Homo sapiens: one gene and its partners. The protein of the gene in region 3 purifies or fractionates together with the protein of the main gene of each other region. This does not show direct contact. Each region holds a gene or a part of one and is shown on either strand. Other genes may lie near its edges.

Evidence for each region. Proteins that work in one complex are often made in the same cells at the same time.
Region 1: the proteins of FSD1 (region 3) and AIDA purify together in Homo sapiens (affinity purification with mass spectrometry; 3 studies listed by BioGRID and IntAct, with this or other methods). This does not show direct contact.
Region 2: the proteins of FSD1 (region 3) and PAK2 purify together in Homo sapiens (affinity purification with mass spectrometry; 3 studies listed by BioGRID and IntAct, with this or other methods). This does not show direct contact.
Region 4: the proteins of FSD1 (region 3) and ARPIN purify together in Homo sapiens (affinity purification with mass spectrometry; 3 studies listed by BioGRID and IntAct, with this or other methods). This does not show direct contact.

What each region holds. Positions count from the first base shown.
Region 1 is NC_000001.11:222,669,898-222,675,151, reverse strand, and holds part of AIDA (axin interactor, dorsalization-associated protein), read left to right. Parts: intron 1-1,716; coding exon 1,717-1,839; intron 1,840-4,901; coding exon 4,902-5,019; intron 5,020-5,162; coding exon 5,163-5,254. UniProt on the Homo sapiens protein: Acts as a ventralizing factor during embryogenesis. Inhibits axin-mediated JNK activation by binding axin and disrupting axin homodimerization. This in turn antagonizes a Wnt/beta-catenin-independent dorsalization pathway activated by AXIN/JNK-signaling.
Region 2 is NC_000003.12:196,829,342-196,834,252, forward strand, and holds the end of PAK2 (serine/threonine-protein kinase PAK 2), read left to right. Parts: 3' UTR 1-3,306; downstream 3,307-4,911. UniProt on the Homo sapiens protein: Serine/threonine protein kinase that plays a role in a variety of different signaling pathways including cytoskeleton regulation, cell motility, cell cycle progression, apoptosis or proliferation.
Region 3 is NC_000019.10:4,320,342-4,324,845, forward strand, and holds the end of FSD1 (fibronectin type III and SPRY domain-containing protein 1), read left to right. Parts: intron 1-2,644; coding exon 2,645-2,896; intron 2,897-3,006; coding exon 3,007-3,095; intron 3,096-3,191; coding exon 3,192-3,302; 3' UTR 3,303-3,495; downstream 3,496-4,504. Other genes in the region: STAP2 (signal-transducing adaptor protein 2), read right to left, coding at 3,792-3,856, 4,114-4,326. UniProt on the Homo sapiens protein: May be involved in microtubule organization and stabilization.
Region 4 is NC_000015.10:89,898,348-89,903,612, forward strand, and holds part of ARPIN (arpin), read right to left. Parts: intron 5,033-5,265; coding exon 4,869-5,032; intron 3,457-4,868; coding exon 3,448-3,456; 3' UTR 1-3,447. Other genes in the region: ARPIN-AP3S2 (uncharacterized protein LOC100526783), read right to left, coding at 4,869-5,032. UniProt on the Homo sapiens protein: Regulates actin polymerization by inhibiting the actin-nucleating activity of the Arp2/3 complex; the function is competitive with nucleation promoting factors.

The DNA of each region.
Region 1 (5,254 bases), on a different chromosome or scaffold from region 3:
AAATTCAGATTCAAAAGTTCATTAGTACCAATTAAAATAAAAAGGAATTCTGCCACAGAGAGGGATTATTTGGAGACCGTGATCCACAGCATTAATGCTGTGAAACTTTAACTTCTGATGTTATCAGGTATCAAATATATGGCCTACTGGAAAGTATATATACTCTACATTATAGTTTGATAGGTCATTTACAGAACTGCGTAACTCATGCAGGAATGTACACCAAAACAAAAAGATGTTTAATGATAGTGTAGTAACTGTTAAGTTACCTTTGCATACATGTTGAACTAAAACATGTTTTTGTAAATATCTTTAAGAACTGAAACAATCAATGTACTATATTGTTTTAAGTTCTCTAAGACAAATCTGTTGAATAATACATAAACACTTGAGTAGTCATTAAATGAGTCCATGTTGAATTTGATTAAACTGGAAGATTCCTGGGTCCAGGAAATTAAAACCATACACAATAACTTAGTGTTCTTTCTAGTTGGTATAAAACAGGTTGTTACAACAAATATAATGAGAATTTAGATAATATTTGTAAAAACGTATTCATTGATGGAAGGGTTTCATTGGCAATTTTCATGTCCATTTTTGGTCCTTTGACTTGAATACAGCAGGGGGATTCTGATAATGTTAGATTTAAAGGTCTTTCCAAACCATACACTTGATCAAGTTTGGAAATTAGGGGTAAGGTCCCATTGAGGCATATTATTTACATTCTAAGTTTTTATTGCAGACAAAAATATAGTGGCCTATCTCCTAAGGAAAACAAAAAGTTCTTTTCACTTCTTCCCTATAAAGATGAAATTTTGTGTTCTACAAGCTTTCTTTTGTACCTGATTGAGACAGGTTTCCTCCTTCCCACCGCGAAATCTCCCATCCCCTCACTCAGCCCCCTCCACATGCCTCTGTGGTCACCTGCAACTCTTCAGGTACCTGCTCACACCAAATGGGAATTTCTGTTAGCCCAAGAATTTCCTCTTACCTTTCTGCAAGCATCCTTATGAAATATACGCCCTGTAGTTGACAGGGTTTTTTTGTTTGTTTTTTGTTTTTTTGACACAGAGTTTCACTCTTACTGCCCAGGCTGGAGTGCAGTGGCGCGATCTTGGCTCACTGCAACCTCTGCCTCCCGGATTCAAGAGATTCTCCTGCCTCAGCCTCCCAAGTAGCTGGGATTACAGGTGTGCACCACCACGCCTGGCTAATTTTTTTTGTATTTTTAGTAGAGATGGGGTTTCCCCATGTTGGTCAGGCTAGTCTTGAACTCCTGACCTTAAGTGATCCACCCGCCTCAGCCTCCCAAAGTTCTGGGGTTACAGGTGTGAGCCACCGTGCCCTACCTAGTTTGCAGGTTTTTGTTTTTTTGAGACAGAGTCTAGCTCTTTTGCCCAGGCTGGAGTGCAGTGGTGCGATCTCGGCTCACTGCAAGCTCCGCCTCCTGGGTTCACGCCATTCTCCTGCCTGAGCCTCCCGAGTAGCTGGGACTATAGGCGCCCGCCACCACACCCGGCTAATTTTTTTTGTATTTTTAGTAGAGACGGGGTTTCACCATGTTAGCCAGGATGTTCTTGATCTCCTGACCTTGTCATCTGCCCGCCTCGGCCTCCCAAAGTGCTAGGATTACAGGCGTGAGCCACCGTGCCTGGCCTGCAGTTTTTAAGTCTGTATATTTGAATGTTCCTAAAGAGAAACTTCTTTTCTCTTTAGATCTGAATGGCATAGACTTAACTCCTGTGCAAGATACTCCTGTGGCTTCAAGAAAAGAAGATACATATGTTCATTTTAATGTGGACATTGAGCTCCAGAAGCATGTTGAAAAATTAACCAAAGGTTTGTAATCCTAAATAATACTTGGCTTCTTATGGACAGAATTCTCATCTTATTTGTGTTTGTACATATGGTGGACCTAGCATAGTTAGTATCTGGCAGAAGTAAATGTAACATAGTGTTTATTGATTTGAATAAATATACATATTTTTAAAATGTAGAAATTAGGAATTGTGTTATCTACTTGTCTAATAGCACTGTTATATAGTAAAACAATCTTTGATAATAAAATTTTATTGTCTTTACCAACAAAACAAAGTTTTTCACACACTAAAGGGCTGGGAGAAGCAGGAGTGCGTGAAGGTTCCCTGATGATTCAGTTTTCATCTTCAAATTAAGAACCAGGGTTTTCTCCCAGTATTTCTAGTTTGGTAGAACGATAACTTAACTTGCAGTTAATTGTTAGGAAATAGGAAAGGACAAAAGCAAATTTTTGAAATAGTGAGGCTACATTTCCAAGTATGATTCTTAGTATTAAATACTTCCCCATGCTTTTCGCCCAGTGGAAATTTGAGTGTTCTCCAAAAAGGTGACTTCAGAATCCCTTTATCACCTGAGGGTTCAGTTGCAGTTTCTGAAATGTTCAAGCTCTGTAGGATATTCAAGTCCCTTTTGAAGTGATTGCCTCGGCGTCTGAAATATTCGATATTTCACTTCTCAAGTCTGGTGCTGCTGCCTCCTCTGTTCCCCCACTAAAAGACCTTTCAGTGCTTCTGTTAGAACAGTGGTTCTCAGAGTATGATTCCTGGAACAGGAGCAGCACCTGGAGCCTTCTTAGGTGGCCACCCCAGACATCCTGAATCCGAAACCATGGGGATGGGCCTAGCAGTCTGTTTTAGGAAGCCCTCTAGGTGATTCTGACATACACCAAAGCTCCAGAGTCACTGTGTTAGAAGACTATGTATGTAGGAGGTGCTTAATAAATAACGTTGAAGAAATTTCAGTTACAAAGTATGTCTTCTGAACAAAACTATTGATTTGTTTCATTTCTTTAACTCCATTGCCTTAGGAAATGTTTGTGATGTGGACGGGAGAAGGTGGAGTGTTTCATGGGCTAACTTTTCTATTTTATTACACTGTGTTCTTTCTTAATGGCTCGACTCACTAGATAATAAAAGTAGAACTAGATTCAAAATTTGACTCTATTAATTTTTTCCAGCTTCAAACTTACTGTTTACTGTTACTGTAGTTTTAACTGATATTAGTGTTAATGACCATACTTTCATGTTTACAAACATTTTAACTTAATCTTCCCAGGATATTCCTGTTTCACATTTTGTTCTTTCTTATAAAAAGCATGATGAAGGATGCAGGAAATATATTATTTACAGGTGATACAGATTAATAATTTGTTTAACTTCCTCAAAATGATGGTAACATATTTGAACTTTAGTATTGTTTTGAAACGTGACTTTATCATTCACATTTATTCAGACCTCAAGACACGATCATGAGGAGGAGATGGGTTTCCTAGCAGAAAAGACTCTGCTGTCTTTAAAATCTTTGGTTTTCTAATGACAAAATGCCTCTGAGTGCTGTGGGAGGGAGAAGAGAAGCCACCATTTGTGGAAATGACAAGGTCACACACCTAGGGAAGAGATGTTACCAGTAACCTAACTATTGTAATCCTTTCGAGCGTGTTGGGAGTGGATGGCCAAATATGCCCATCTCTCCCTCACCCACATCCCATTGTCTCCTGAGCAATTGGTTTTTTTTTCCTCCCTTGCCATGTGATGTGGTCCATTTGGACCCAAGTGCCAATGCTGTACACACATTTCTGAACATTGCTAAACTTCTAGTGACTTGTGAGTTTTGTCATCAGCGGCAGTATTAAATGTATGTTGTCTTTGCAAGCCAAGCTCCTGGACTGCTCTGGTTAAGGCAGTATTTAGAAGTAGCTGGTGAAGAGTGAGACACTGACTTCCTTCACTTTCCATGCCTTCTTTAGAAATTCATTTTTGTTGGCCACATTGATGAGGCAACTTATTTCTCCATTTTTAGCTTTTTTCTGCAGGATTGGGGGAAGAGTTTATCTGTTGGACTTTGGGGACATAGGACCGTCTAAATTTCTTATTTTTTTCTTTTTTTGAGACAGAGTCTCACTTTGTCACACAGGCTGGGGCACAGTGGCATGATCATGGCTCACTGCAGCCTCAATCTCCCTGGGCTCAGGCAGTCCTACCAACTCAGCCTCCCGAGTAGCTGGGAGTACAGGCACGTGCCACCGAGCCTGGCTATTTTTAAAATTTTTTTTGTAGAGGTGGGGTCTTACCACCCCCTTGTTGCCCAGGCTGGTCTCAAACTCCTGGGCTCAAGTGATCTGCCCATCTCTGCCTCCCAAAGTGCTGGGATTACAGGCATGAGCCACCGCACCCGGCCAGAACTGTCTAAATTTCTCATTATCACTTGCTCATTGGAGGAGAGTGGCAGAATAAATAGATTTGCTCTTTGAACCTTTGTCTTCTACAGCACTGTCTTGACACAAACATGCAATTCCAGGAAAAACATCACAGCAGTGCTTTGAATACTGAAAAAGGTGTTAAGGAAACAGATAACATTTTCCAGCTGAGCCAGCATGTGATTTATGTTGTTTGAATTCCAAAATACCCCCAAGATTGAATTTTTGAGTTTTTGTTTTGGGGTAAGGGAAACAATTCGAGCTTAAATTTTTTTAGGAACTCTTTTAAATGCATTTTCTACCTAATGAGTCTCTATGTGTATTGAAGTATCTTCTCTGTTCTTCTGTGGCATTTCATATTTTATAGCAGCTTATGATTCTACCTGTGTACATAACTGTTATACATTCTTGAGGCAGTCTAGCTCAAGAAGTTTTGCTATAGTTTGTAGAATTGGATGATAAGGAGAAATGTCACTCTACTCAGATACAGAAGAGTTCGGGGTGACAACCATAGTAAGTTACTGTCAAATCATTGAGACTGGCACAAGTTGTTTTGTCAAATTATGCCAGCTGTAGCTGTTCATATGCTTCTGGTGATCAAAGAAAATTAATTGACACACAAGAAATGTGCTATCTGTGGTTTATGTGGCTTGTTTTAATTCCTTAGGTGCAGCTATCTTCTTTGAATTCAAACACTACAAGCCTAAAAAAAGGTTTACCAGCACCAAGTGTTTTGCTTTCATGGAGATGGATGAAATTAAACCTGGGCCAATTGTAATAGAACTGTAAGTGATGTGCATATAGAATTAGTACTAATTTGATGGTGACTAGTATATCTTTCTTCTGAATCCCCCATATCCAGTATTTAACCTTGAAGAGTTCAGTTATCAATGTATTTTAAACAATGGTCTTTCTGTTGTGATTACAGATACAAGAAACCCACTGACTTTAAAAGAAAGAAATTGCAATTATTGACCAAGAAACCACTTTATCTTCATCTACATCAAACTTTGCACAAGG
Region 2 (4,911 bases), on a different chromosome or scaffold from region 3:
TTGCAATTTTAGGTTTAGGTTTGTTCTTTTTCTTTTTCATTAATCCTCTCTCACCTCACAGATACCCCCTCCCATGGCAAATAATATAATAACCAGTGAATTTTCAGGAATTTAAAAATTAGCTTTTTTCCACTTAAAGGAGAAAAATATTTGGGACTAGCAGCAGAGGCAGTAAGAGATGTGAACCTTGGTGAGCTCTGATACAGTGAGAAGAGATTATACTCATGAAAGAGAATGTTAGTGTTACAGAGAAGCAGCCGATAGCAAATCGACTGTAGAGACTTGGCGGCGGTGGCATTGCCCCAGGTCGTCAGCAGTGTGGTATTATCTATGAGAACTTGAGCGACAGAGTATTTCTTGATGAATTTATAGATCATTTGAGATGTTGAGTTACTTTAGTTTAGTTTTGTTTTGTTTTTTCAAATAAGTAGAGACTATTGTAAAAAACGAGAAAGGAAAATGAAATGTGCGTGTTGATAGCAATAATTTGTTTCTTTTAAAGATTCTAAAAGGTCTGAGACCTGTAGCATTAATTATTTGAGTGCCCTCCCTTCTCCCCTCCCCTCCCTTTTCTCTTCTCTTTTTTCCTCTCCTCTTCTTCTCCTTTATTCATTGTTTTGCTTTTGGAGTGGGTGTTGTTCAAGTATCTGTGGTTTGGTTCTGGCATTTTGTTCCCACCATCCCCTTCCCCCATTAACTTCCCCCCTGCTTGCCATCCTGCAGTAGTATAAATCATGAATAAAAAATAATTTTGCTGTTGTAGTATACATTGGAGAAACTGGCAGGTTTTATTTCCATTATTTTATTTCCACTATATCTATGATAAGATGCAATTATAAGGAGAGAAGTGACTGTTTTTTATTGATAAGGCAAGATTTTCAGAAAAATGAGTAAAATAATTAATGAAACATATTTAGAGCACTTAATGGTCTCTGTTTTCAATATAATTCTTGATTTCATTTTTCTCTGGAATATATTGGCCTTCTACAGCTATTACTGAATTATAGAAACTGGTTTATTTCTGGCAGAAAGCTGCAGTGCCACCTGAGTTCCAAATTTTACCATTCTTTGTAAACAGTTGGATGGATTATGATAAAGAAGATGCTACCAATGAAATAGAAAACCAACGAGATGAGAAGACTGTGATCCTCATGTACTCAGAGGCACTTCCCTCCTAAGTCAAAGACCATCCTCACTGACTATGTGCCAACGCCTCGTTTCAGGCTTGTGACTCAACAAAGGGCTTTTCCATTGATAGAAGCAGTTTGGGATTTGTAGTTGCGACTTCTTCGATAGTTACCTGCACGTCCATTGCTGGCAACTGACTTGTCATTAAAACCTGGCTCTTTGGTTAAGGGAGCTACGCTGTGGTTTATTCTTAAGTTACGTGGATAAACTAACCTCTAACAGAAATATACTTTGGTTAATTTTGAAATGTGTCATTTTTAAACAATCTTAAAAGTAATACAGAATTGTGATTTATTAATTTTAAAACATTCAGAACTTGTTGAAAGAAAAATTATATCTGAATCAAGATTCATGTTTTTTATTTTTATTTTTTTTGATACAGAGTCTCACTCTGTCACTCAGGCTGGAGTGCAGTGACATGATCTCAGCTCACTGCAACCTCCGCTTCCTGGGTTCAAGCAATTCTCATGCCTCAGCCTCCTGAGTAGCTGAGACCACAGGCACCCGCCACCACACCCAGCTATTTTTTTGTATTTTTAGTAGAGACAGAGTCTCACCACATTGCCCAGGCTGGTCTCCAACTCCTGAGCTCAGGCAGTCTGCCCACCTTGGCCTCCCAAAGTGCTGCAGTTACAGGCGTGAGCCACTGCACCTGGCCTCATGTTTTTTAAATAATTGCCTTTTATATTTACCCTTTTTGTCATCACTTTAGAATGAAAATTCCCATTTAAATCTGAAAGTTACCTTAATAGTCCTCTTGTGTTATTAGGACAGTATTATTATAGTACTTATTTATTTTATTTTAGATTTAAAGTTATCTTCTCTTTTTCTTTTTTCTTCTGCTGCTTTTAGGGACAATTAAAACTGGGAAACTATGAAACATGGAACATTTTATCCTACCTGAAAGTAAACGAGTAATTGTGAAGCATAAGACACTGAGGCTAATACAACTCTGTCTTCATGTGTTGACTGCCTGGCACATAGTATTCATTCTCTTCCCTTTAACATAGAAGTGTCCAGCTGCGTACAGTCTAGTAACCAGCAACTGTAAACGAACCTGTGCCTCTAACAAGCGATTCTAAACCACCTATGAGTATTTCTTTTAGGGCTCACTTAAATACATGTTTGTATATACTGTATTCTAGCCAGAATAATTTTAGATCTGATCAGGTAGTAGCTAAAATTAGAAAAAAACAAAATAGATGCTTAAAGAATTTGCATCCATTTTTGAGTCTAAATCTTTTAAAATATACTGAGATCCACATCTAGTGAAATGTCAGTGTCAAAATATTATAGATTATAGCTAAAATCCAGATTAATACTCATTTGGGGTTTTTTATAGTGGAACTTCATAGTAATACAAAAAGCAGATTGTCTTCCTGTCTCCGCTGCTCCCACAGTAGGTATTGAAACTGGTAAAATCAGTTTTTTGATAGTGTGTGTATATAAGAAAAAATAGATACACACATTCTTTTTTCTCAGTCAACACATTGATTGAACACTCTGGCAAAGATGCTGTGGTGGATGAGGTTGGAGTTCGAAAGAAGAAGCAAGCGCTGGCCTGGCCTTGAAAGAACCGAAGTCTTTCCCATTCACTTCTCTAGAAAGCTGCCAAGACAGAGGCAGAAAGAAATGGATGATAGTTCTGTCAAGCACACTTCTGTTCTCTTAGAACTTAGAAGTGTTTCTAAGAGAACAGAAGTAATAAGAGAAACAGTTACGTGTGGAATTCAACATCTTTGGTTGGAACGCATTGGCTTTTTTTTTCTTGTTTTGATAGAAATGGAATTAAGCAAAAGTAGTTTTTGTCTTTTCTGTTGTCTTCAAATTTTATGCCTTTTATTTTTAATTTAATCCCGTTCAATTATTTAATTGTTATACATTGACATTAACTGCTGTATTTTGACTTTGTTCAATAATTTTGTTCTTTCAGGGCTAGAAATAAACTTTTTAAAAAAAGTGTGCATTTTTCCCTTTCCTAAACTTTTATTCTTTCTTTTGATCAGCGTAAAAGAATATTTTAATGTCTTTTGATAGCATAAAAGAATATTTAAATGTCTTAATAGGTTTTCAAAGAACATTTAGTATTTTTAGTGATAAATGTTTTAAACCTTTTAATGGTGTTGTGCCATCATTTTGAATTTATTACAAAGCTCCAAAGTAGGAAGGTTTCTAGAAATGTGTGGGCAGTAAACATGAAGTTTTCCTTTTTTTTTTTTTTTTTTTTTTTTTTGAGACAAGTCTCACTCTTTCTTCCAGGCTGGAGTGCAGTGGCGCCATCTCAGCTCACTGCAACCTCTGCCTCCCAGGTTCAAGTGATTCTCCTGCTTCGGCCTCCTGAGTAGTTAGGGGAAGTTTTCCCTTTCTAAATCAAGTTCAGAATAATTTTCTTTATCAATGTTTCTCTATCAGACCCAGGGAAACAGTTCTGATTTGAACACACACCTTGCTGGAGTAATAAAAACCTGATCAGAATTTCTGTGTTAAGTGAACCAAGAAACCTTTTAGAGTGCAATACGTCGTAAGGCATCACTTCATTATGTGAATTAATTTGGAATCTTAGGTACCCTAACATAGGGAACAGCCACAATAATGGTTTACTATCAAAAAGCATAAAATAAGGCCAGGCGTGGTGGCTCACACCTGTAATCCTAGCACTGGGAGGCTGAGACTGGCGGATTGCCTGAGCTCAGGCAGGAGACCAGCCTGGGCAACATGATGAAATCCCATCTCTACTAAAATACAAAAAAAAATCAGCCAGGTGTACTGGCACATGTCTGTAGTCCCAGCTACTTGGGAGGCTGAGGCACAAGAATTGTTTGAACCCGGGAGGTGAAGGTTGCAGTGAGACAAGATCATGCCATTGCACTCCAGCCTGGGTGACAGAGCAAGACTCCTGTCTCAAAAAGAAAAAAAAAAAAAAAAAAAAAAAAAAAAAAAAAAATATATATATATATATATATATTCTGGGTGAGAAGGGGAGGCAATGACTTTGAAATGTATTTGTTACACTATATGGCTGTTTCGTCTTGTTCTAACATTTATATTTCTTTGAACTAATAGCAAATGCTCAAAGCATTGCCTAAGAAAACTTTTAAAAGCCTGTGGTTAATTTCAGAAGCTCTATCTCTAGGGCTTGGCGGGAGGATGGCTCGAGCCTGGGAGGCAGAGGTTGCAGTGAGCCAAGATGGTGCCGCTGTACTCCAGCCTGGGTGACAGAGCAAGGCCCCTGTCTCAAAAAAAAAAGAGTTGGTAATTGCCTATATCTCTATAAAGAGAATTTTATAGTCTCAATAATCCTGATTATAGCTGTTTTACCCATACATCTTAGTTTGGGGTTAGGGAAAAAGACTAAAAATGCTGCATTTCTGGGAAACAATTTGTTCAGAAAATGACAGCATTTATATAAACTTGTGAGTTACGTGAAGAGACTGCTGATCTTCGCCGGGCGCGGTGGCTCCCGCCTGTAATCCCAGCGCTTTGGGAGGCCGAGGCGGGCGGATCACGAGGTCAGGAGATCGAGACCATCCTGGCTAACGTGGTGAAACCCCGTCTCTACTGAAAATACAAAAAATTAGCCGGGCGTGGTGGCAGGCGCCTGTAGTCCCAGCTACTCGGGAGGCTGAGGCTGGAGAATGGCGTGAACCCAGGAGGCGGAGGTTGCAGTGAGCCGAGATCGCGCCATTGCCCTCCAGCCTGGGCGACAGAGCGAGACTCCGTCTC
Region 3 (4,504 bases):
AGCATCTGGACCCTGCCAGAGCTGGGAACTAGGGGGAGCATCTGGACTCGAGGAGGACTTGAGGCCTGTGGGAACACTATGAGTCTTCCAGGAACAAGGGTTTGAGGATGATCTAGTTTCTGGGAAGAACTGAGGGGTATTTGGACATGGGGAGGAACTGAAAGAAGTTTCTATGGCTTGGAGGAGTCTGGAAGGAGTAGCTTGGGCTTGTAGAGAATCTGAAAGGAGTAACTGAGGCTTGGGGAGTATCTGGGCTTAATAAATTTCTGGAGGAAGTTGATAAAGCTTAGGAGTATCTGGGGGGAATACCCGGGAATCAAGGAATATCTGGAGGGAATAGCTGGGACTTGAGGAGCATCTGGAGGGAATAGCTGCAGCCTGAGGAGTATCTGGGGGGAAAAGCTGGGACTGAGGAGTATCTGGGGGAAACAGCTGGGACTGAGGAGTATCTGGAGGGGAATCGCTGGGACTGAGGAGTATCTGGGGGAAATAGCTGGGACTGAGGAGTGTCTGGAGGGGAATAGCTGGGACTGAGGAGTATCCGGGGAAATAGCTGGGACTGAGGAGTATCTGGGGGGAATAGCTGAGACTGAGGAGTATCTGGAGGGGAATCGCTGGGACTGAGGAGTATCTGGGGGAAATAGTTGGGACTGAGGAGTATCTGGAGGGGAATAGCTGGGACTGAGGAGTATCTGGAGGGGAATCGCTGGGACTGGGGAGTATCTGGAGGGAAATAGCTGAGACTGAGGAGTATCTGGGGAAATAGCTGGGACTGAGGAGTACCTGGAGGGGAATAGCTGGGACTGAGGAGTATCTGGGGGGAATAGCTGGGACCTGAGGAGCATCTGGAGGGAATAACTGCAGCCTGAGGAGTATCTGGGGGGAATAGCTGGGACTGAGGAGTATCTGGGGGAAACAGCTGGGACTGAGGAGTATCTGGAGGGGAATAGCTGGGACTGAGGAGTATCTGTGGAAATAGCTGGGACTGAGGAGTATCTGGAGGGGAATAGCTGGGACTGAGGAGTATCTGGGGAAATAGCTGGGACTGAGGAGTATCTGGAGGGGAATAGCTGGGACTGAGGAGTATCTGTGGAAATAGCTGGGACTGAGGAGTATCTGGAGGGGAATAGCTGGGACTGAGGAGTATCTGGGGAAATAGCTGGGACTGAGGAGTATCTGGGGGGAATAGCTGGGACTGAGAAGTATCTGGGGGAAATAGCTGGATCCCCGAGGAGTATCTGGGAGGAATGGCTCAAGCCAGAGAAGTATCTGGAGGGACTAGCAGAGACTGAGGCATATCTGAAGGGAATTACTGGGGCCCAAGGAGTATCTGGAGGGAATAGCTGGGACCCAAGTATTTGGAGGGAATAACTGGAGTCCAAGGAGTATCTGGGGGGAAATAGCTGGGGCCCAAGGAGTATCTGAGGGGAATAGCTGGGACCCTGAGGAGTATCTGGGAGGAATAACTTGGATCCCGAGGAGTATCTGGGGGAAATAGCTGGGTCCCCAAGGAGTATCTGGGAGAAATAGCTGGGTCCTCAAGGATTATCTGGGAAGAATAGCTGGGATCCTGAGGAATATCTGGGGGGAATAGCTGGGTCCCCAAGAAGTATCTGGCGGGGGGATAGCTGGGATCCCGAGGAGTATCTGGGAGGAATAACTTGGACCCCAAGGAGTATCTGGGAGAATTACCTGGGGCCCAAGGAGTATCTGAGAGGAACAGCTGGGTCCTCAAGGATTATCGGGGGGAATAGCTGGGATCCTGAGGAATATCTGGGGGGAATAGCTGGGTCCCCAAGAAGTATCTGGAGGGGATAGCTGGGATCCCGAGGAGTATCTGGGAGGGATAACTTGGACCTCAAGGAGTATCTGGGAGAATTAGCTGGGGCCCAAGGAGTATCTGAGAGGAACAGCTGGGTCCTCAATGATTATCTGGGGGGAATAGCTGGGATCCTGAGGAGTATCTGGGGGGGCGGATAGCTGGGTCCCCAAGAAGTATCTGGAGGGGATAGCTGGGATCCCGAGGAGTATCTGGGAGGAATAGCTGGAGCCCAAGGAGTATCTGGAGGGAATAGCAGGAACCAAGGAGTATCTGGAGGGAATAGCAGGAACCGAGGAGTATCTGGAGGGAATAGCAGGAACCGAGGAGTATCTGGAGGATATAGCAGGAACCGAGGAGTATCTGGAGGGAATAGCTGGGTCCGAAGGAGTATCTGGAGGGAATAGCTGGGGCCCAAGGAGTATCTGGAGGGAATAGCTGTGGCCCAAGGTGTATCTGGAGGGAATAGCTGGGGCCCAAGGAGTATCTGGAGGGAATAGCTGGGGCCCAAGGAGTATCTGGGGGGAATAGCTGCGGCCCAAGGAGTATCTGGAGGGAATAGCTGGGGCCCAAGGAGTATCTGGAGGGAATAGCTAGGAACTTGAGGCGTATCTGAAGGGAATAGCTGGGGTTCAAGGGGTACCTGAGGGGAATAGCTGGGAACCTGAGGAGTATCTGGGGGGTACAGCTAGGAACCTGGGGAGTGTCTCTGCAGGGAGCAGCTGTGGTGTAAGGAGCACCTTGGGGGCTGGCCCTTTGTGGAAGGGCATCTGTGGCCCAGTTCTATCCAGTTCCCCTGCCCACCCCTCCTGCCCTGCGCCACAGGGGACACGCTGATCGACGGCGGGGAGCATTACTGGGAGGTGCGCTACGAGCCGGACAGCAAGGCGTTCGGCGTGGGCGTGGCCTACCGCAGCCTGGGCCGCTTCGAGCAACTGGGCAAGACGGCCGCCTCCTGGTGCCTGCACGTCAACAATTGGCTGCAGGTCAGCTTCACGGCCAAGCACGCCAACAAGGTCAAGGTGCTGGACGCCCCCGTGCCCGACTGCCTGGGTGTGCACTGTGACTTCCACCAAGGTGACCCCAAGCCCCAGCTGCCGTCTCTGGCTGCCCCTGCCTGAGTCCCCTCCGTCTGCCCCCATCCCACTTCTGACCGGTCCCACTGTCACTCTGCCCCCCGACCCCAGGCCTCCTGTCCTTCTACAATGCCCGCACCAAACAAGTGCTGCACACTTTCAAGACCAGGTTCACACAGCCGCTGCTGCCTGCTTTCACGGTGAGCTGCCCTCCGCGGCCCAGGGGGAGGAGAGGGTGGTGCTGGGCGCTGGGGTTTGAAGCTGAGCCCCTCCCCCCTCCCCCCGCTGTCCCTCAGGTATGGTGTGGCAGCTTCCAGGTGACGACAGGCCTGCAGGTCCCCAGTGCTGTGCGCTGCCTGCAAAAGCGAGGCAGTGCTACCAGCAGCTCCAACACCAGCCTCACCTAGGCCCCCAGGCACCCACCCAGCTGGGGTGTTTTTGGGGGAGTCGCCGCCAAGCCCAGGCTGCTGGAGCCAGGCACCCTCCTCTGTCACTTGCTGCTTGGAGCCTTAACTCCAGATGGGGGGGTCACCAAGAGGGAGTGGGCACCCTGGCGGGCCCTCTCCCCACCTCACCTCTTAATAAAGGTCAGACACTGGCCAGGCGAGGCCGCGGTGCTGGTTCTTTGGGCCTGGGTGTGGCACCGGGACCTCATCCTTCCCAGCTGTAAAATGGGCTTTTCTCACAGAATATGGTGGTAGATTTCACTGAGCTGAGGGTCACTGGGAGTAAATGGGGCCATCCGTAGGCAGACATCTGACGGACCCCTCGTCCCCTAATCCCCCAAGCCAAGCCAGACACATGGGTCCTGGGGTCAGAGTTTTAATCCTGGGAAAAAGAATCTGGCCGCTGGGCCATGCCCTGGGACTAGCCCGCTGGTCCCTGGTGTGTCCGAATCAGTGCTCCAGTGCCCGCCTCTTCTCCAGCTTCTTCTGTAGCTCTGCCGTCATGTCTGCCAGCCCTGGGGGTTCAGGACCAGGAGCTGCAGCTGGCTCAGGGATCCCCAGTCCATGCCCACCGCCCTGACAGCCACCCAGGACCAGCTACAGATTTGCAGGGCCCCGTGCAACAGGACAGTGTGCTCGAAGGCATTAAGAATTTCAAGACAGAGACAGCAGAACCTTAAAAGACAGGGCGCTTCGGAGTGTGGGGACTTGTGTGACTGTACGGTCACACACCTGGGAAGCCCGCCCCGCACTGACCCCGCAGACCCCTTACCGGCTGTGGGGAAGAGAGGCTGGGCTGAACTGACTGGCAGCTTCCTGCCCAAGCCACCATTAAAGACTTTGGGCTCTGGAAGAGAAGACAGATGAGGCCAGGTGTGGTGGCTCACGCCGGTAATCCCAGCACTTTGGGAGGCTGAGGTGGGTGGATCACTTGAGGTCAGGAGTTCGAGACCAGCCTGGGCAACATGGTGAAACCCCTTCTCTACTAAAAATACAAAAATTAGATGGACGTGGTGGCAGGTGCCTGTAATCCCAGCTACTTGGGAGGCTGAGGCAGGAGAATCACTTGAACCCGGCAGACAGAGGTTGCAGTGAGCTGAGATCGCGCCACTGCCTGGGCAACAGAGTGAGACTCCATCTCAAAACAAAAAACAACAATAAAG
Region 4 (5,265 bases), on a different chromosome or scaffold from region 3:
AACAGCCAGCCCCTCCATGGGACCAACACAGCCCTTCCCAAACTGTTTCTCACAACAGCTGTCCCATGAAATGCTCCTCACAAAAACGGGTTCTCTGACCAAAGAAATGTGGGAAATACGTAATCATACCCTGTCCTGAAGAGTTACAGTAAATGTTAGTATAGTTAAAGCTCCAAGAAATCCTACAGAAATGTTTGAGTTTAACACTACGTTTGTTCCAACAAATTAGATCATAGAAACACCACCACTTTTTGTTTCTAGCCCTATTAACAACCTGTGGAAGATCCCTCAGGCTGGTCTGAAAGAATCGCCCCAGAGCTCTTAAGGAGGAAGCGAGCCGAGAAAGGAGGGTTGTGACATTGTGATGAGCTCTGAGTTGTATTAAGGAATTTGAACTTTTCATCTGGGGAGTAATAGGATCCAGTCTAGCTTCCAAAAGCTGCCCCTACCAGCCACATGGGGGCCCCTGAAAGCAGGGTTTCAGCCCTGCTGTAGTTCCTCAACTCCCCACAGGTGTATCTAGGAAGGCTTCTGCCCTGGCTGGGCCTGCCCTAATGCCTGAACCAGTCCTGACCAGGGCAGGAGGTATGGCAAAATCAGGGGCTTTGGCCTCACCATCTGCCCATGCAGATGCCTATGCCACAGCAGCTTCCTATTTTCTCCCTTCCTAGTCCCTAGTCCTAGGGAATAGGATTTTACCTCAGTGTCCCTACCTGCTGAGCCTGGGACCCTATTCTTTTTTTTTTTTTTTTTTTTGAGACAGGGTCTCACTGTGTTGCCCAGGCTGGAGTGCAGTGGCAATCTCAGCTCACTGCAACCTCCACCTCCCGGGTTCAAGAAATTCTCATGCCTCAGCCTCCCAAGGCGCTGGAACTACAGGCATGTGCCACCATGTCCGGGTAATTTTTGTATTTTTTGGTAGAGACGGGGTTTCACTGTGTTGATCAGGCTGGTTTCGAACTCCTGACCTCAAGTGATCCGCCCACCTCGGCCTCCCAAAGTGCTAAGATTACAGGCGTGAGCGACTGCACCCAGCCCTGGGGCCCTGTTCTTATCCTCAGCCCACTTGGTTTTCCCATCCCTAGGGAGCTAGTTTCAGTTCTCTATACTTCTTAGCCACAGGCTGGGCTCCTGCTAAACAGCAGGTCACCCGGAAACATAACATCACTACTTGTGCACCACAGCACTGCCACTCACCCAGAATCTGGGCATCATTCTTGATCCCTTCGTCTCCCCCCAGGTCCTGTTGATTTTGCCCCCCGAATGCCCCTCAAATCATTCTCTTCTTTCCATCTCCCCTGCCACTGCTATAGACCAGACCCCTCTAGCCTCTCACCCAGGCAACTGCAGCAGTCTCCTAAAGGAGCAACTCGCCTCCAGCTGCTCGGCAGTCAAGTGACCTTTGAAACACAGATCAGATCTTCTCACTCTCCATGGGATCACTGGCTTCCAGGATGTTAAGGATAAAGTCCCCAATTCCTTAACATGCGTGAGGATGCCATGCCCAATCTCCAGCCTCATCTCAAACACCAGCCCCCATTCTCTGAGCTCCAGACACAATGGTCTTTCCCTTCCTGAAGCCCATCCAAGACACCCCGCCCTTTTTGTTGCTTTAGGACCTCTCCTATTGACACACTGGGCCTCCTTGTTTGGAATGGTGACCTGTCCATATAAGTGTGCCATACCCTTTGGACACAGTGCTTTAGACAGCAGGATGTCTAAAGACACTGGGTGACTCTACCCCCAGTCAGTGTCCCCAGCTATCCTTCTGCTCAACCACCTCCCTGGCCACCCCCATGGCTGAGGTCCCAGCATGGCCTGCCTGTGAGAAAGTCCCATTCAGACACAGAACACCAGTGAAGTGGCTACCACATCCTCTGGCCCCTGTTTCCAAGACCTTTCTGAAGGGCAAGGAAGCAGGGGACAGTGGAAGGAACATAAGGTTTGCTTTTGACAGCTCTGGGTTTGAATCCTGATTCTGCTACTCATTAGCTGTGTGACTCTGGGCAGGTTGCTTAACCTGTCTGAGACCCTTTTCCTGCTCTGTAATATGAATAGTCCGGTAGTTAAGAATGTGGGCTTTGAAATCTGAGTGCTTGGATGTAAATTCCTCTTGCCACTGTATACTATCCTAGAGCTCTGAGCTTTAGTCTCATGAGAAAATGGGAATAATAATCAGTACCTCATGGACTGTTGTGAGAAGTACGATATCGCAAGTGCTTAGCACAAGTATGAGTAATTATTATCATGGAAATCATCTAGCATTGTGTTCGACACATTAGGGGGACTCCATAATTATTAGTTCACCACCACCCTCTCTTTTCCCAAGTCAAGCAAGATCCACATGCCACCAAGTCCTGACGACATGGAGACTTCAATTCCAGGTCTCTTCACAGATCTGGGTGTGGGTATACTACCCAAAAGGCAGTGTTCATGAGCCAAGAGAAATGGCTTCCTTCTCATAGGAACATTGCTCAGCTGAAAGGCCGTTTACACCTGACAATAACCCAGTAAGGGTGGAGGAATTCCTTTCTGAAGATTTACTCATTCATAAAAAGTTCTCCAGGTACAAAACAACAACAAAAAAGGTATTCTCAAAACTGTAGCCTGGCAGAGTGAGTCTGAGAGATGCGGACCAGCCAGCCACGCCTGGGAACGCTGTTGGCCTCTCTGGGAATGGCATCTACCAGGAAAGCAGCCAGGGATGTCAGATAACAGAAACCCCAGAGGTGGCATGGGAACATTTGAGGGAGTAAAGAACTGGCAACTCAAGGTAGGGGGAAGGTACAAGGGACACGGAGGCTTGAAGCAGGATAGTACAGGCTACAACACAGAGTGCTGAGGAAGGGGTGGGTGGGGAAGGAAAGCAGGAAACAATGAGAACGGAGGAAGAGCCCCGCTAACTTCTCTCAGCTGCTCTGCATTTAGACAAGGGATATTCCCCACTCCGCACCAATACCAGGTCCAGTTACTCTCAGGCTGTCCTAGGGTCTCTCCCACCACCTGCCTCTACAAACAAAGCTGCTATCCAGGGCCAGGGTCAACATGAGGCTGGGTGCAGTGGCTCACGCCTGTAATCCCAACACCTTGGGAGGTGGAGGGGGGTGGATCGCTTGAGTCCAGGAGTTTGAGATCAGCCTGGGCAACATAGTGAGACCTCCATCTCTAATTTTTTTTTAAAGGGTCATCATGTAATGTCTAGGAAGGCTAGACTCACATGCAGGGAGGGGCCCTCCCTGAGCCACAGCATGAGGCCCCACCACCAACACAGTGGTCATGGGTTTGGTTTTAGCAGAGCTTGTTCAAAGAGTATTCCAAGGTGGCTATGGGGAAGAACCAGGTAAGACTTGGCAGACTGTTCTCTCCAGCTCCAGAGTAGAAGTTCATGGAAGAAATGTTCCACAATGCTACAGAAGGTGCTGGTGCCCCCAGAGGCAGCCACGTCCCTCAGTCATCCTAGAGAAATCCAAGGGGTAAAGAGATGTGGAGACAGCACATGTCATAAACGTCACTGCAAGTTATCAGACAAACAAGGGTTCAATTGCGTGGTACCTGTGGGGCCCATGAGTGCTTGCCTGGGCGCCTCATTAGAGCTGGCCCGGCAGCTCCAACAGCTCTTGGACTGTTTTTCAGTCCAAGATTCGCTTTATGAAGACAAAAAGGAATCCAGACACTCTCATCTGCGTGCGCCTGCTTTCTCTGGCAAAAGACATCATCTCCATTACCTAGATAAATAGTGCATTTTTCTGTGACTTCGTTGCTTCAGATGTTCATTTTGAGGCCAGGTGTGGTGGCTCAAGCCCGTAATCCCAGCACTTTGGGAGCCTGAGGCAGGTGGATCACCCGAGGTCGGGAATTCGAGACCAACCAGCCCAACATGGAGAAACCTCGTCTCTACTAAAAATACAAAATTAGCCAGGCATGGTGGCGCATGCCTGTAATCCCAGCACTTTGGGAGGCTGAGGCAGGAGAATTGCTTGAACCCGGGAGGCAAAGGTTGCAGTGACCTGAGATGGCGCCATTGCACTCCAGCCTGGGCAATAAGAGTGAAACTCCGTCTCAAAAAAATAAAATAAAATAAAATAATAAATGTTCATTTTGGGGCCTTATGACATCAATTCAAGTCTTTGGGTAAAATATACTTCAGAAAAACAACTGTGAACCTGGGCAACATGGCAAAACCTCGTCTCTACAAAAAATAAAAAAATTAGCCAGGCGTGGTGATGCATGCCTATAGTCCCAGCTACTTGGGAGGCTGAGGTGGGAGGATCATTTGAGCCCAGGAGTTCGAGGCTGCAGTGAGCCATGATCGTGCCCCTGCACTCCAGCCTGGGCAACAGAATGAGACTCCATCTCCCAAAAAAAGAGAAAAGAAATGAAAAGAAAAGCAACTGTGAATAGGCTGAGGATCAACGTGGGGACTGACTCTCATCAAAAGAAAAACCAGTAAGGACCAGGTCAGCCATTCTCCAGACACTTCAGGCAAGGAGCCCAAACCAAAGGAGGAAAAACTACGCATTCAGTTGTTCAACTGCCTCAGCATGGTTAATGTATTCACTTGAAGTAGAAATGTTTTGAGACTTAATGACCATGATTAATATCCCTCTGCACCCCCTCCTTCCTACCACTTGGGAATCTTTGGGGAATAGTTAGGTTCAGAGCCACCTACAAGAAAGGTCCCAGGTTGTCATTCTTCATACCTTAGAGGAATTCTCCTGATGCTAACACATTCCCAGGTGTTTCACAGAATTCCACTAAAGCTGGGGGGTAAGATTCATCCTGTCGTCTTCTCATCCTACCCACAACCTCAACCAGTATGTACCATGCTCCTGCCAGGAGATACAACTGCACCAACACCAGGTACCTACCCACTCCTCGTCCTCTGCCCCATCCCCCTGCTCTCGGATCTCCGCTGCAGCCCCCTTCGAACACTTTTGGGCCATGATGTTGTCTGTCCAGGATGCCCCTGTCTTTCCATCACCAGTGAAATTACACTTGGTCACTGTTCCAGCCTCAAGTTTGGCCAATGAATCTGAAAGAAGAGATGAAATTGAATGTCCTCTGTCCCTGTGGCAGAAACATAGTGAGGGCTGGGCCCATTATGGTGGGGTCCCCTAGGCCTGGGTTAAACCACTGTTTTCTCCAGGCATAGATGTGGTCAATGAGCCCCTGGGTGGGACCCCCAAGGTATGGTGGGAGAGTCGCTCACAGGAACCATGGGATTGGGTGGCACCCGGGGATCCAGGCTGTCGAGCCCAATGGCCC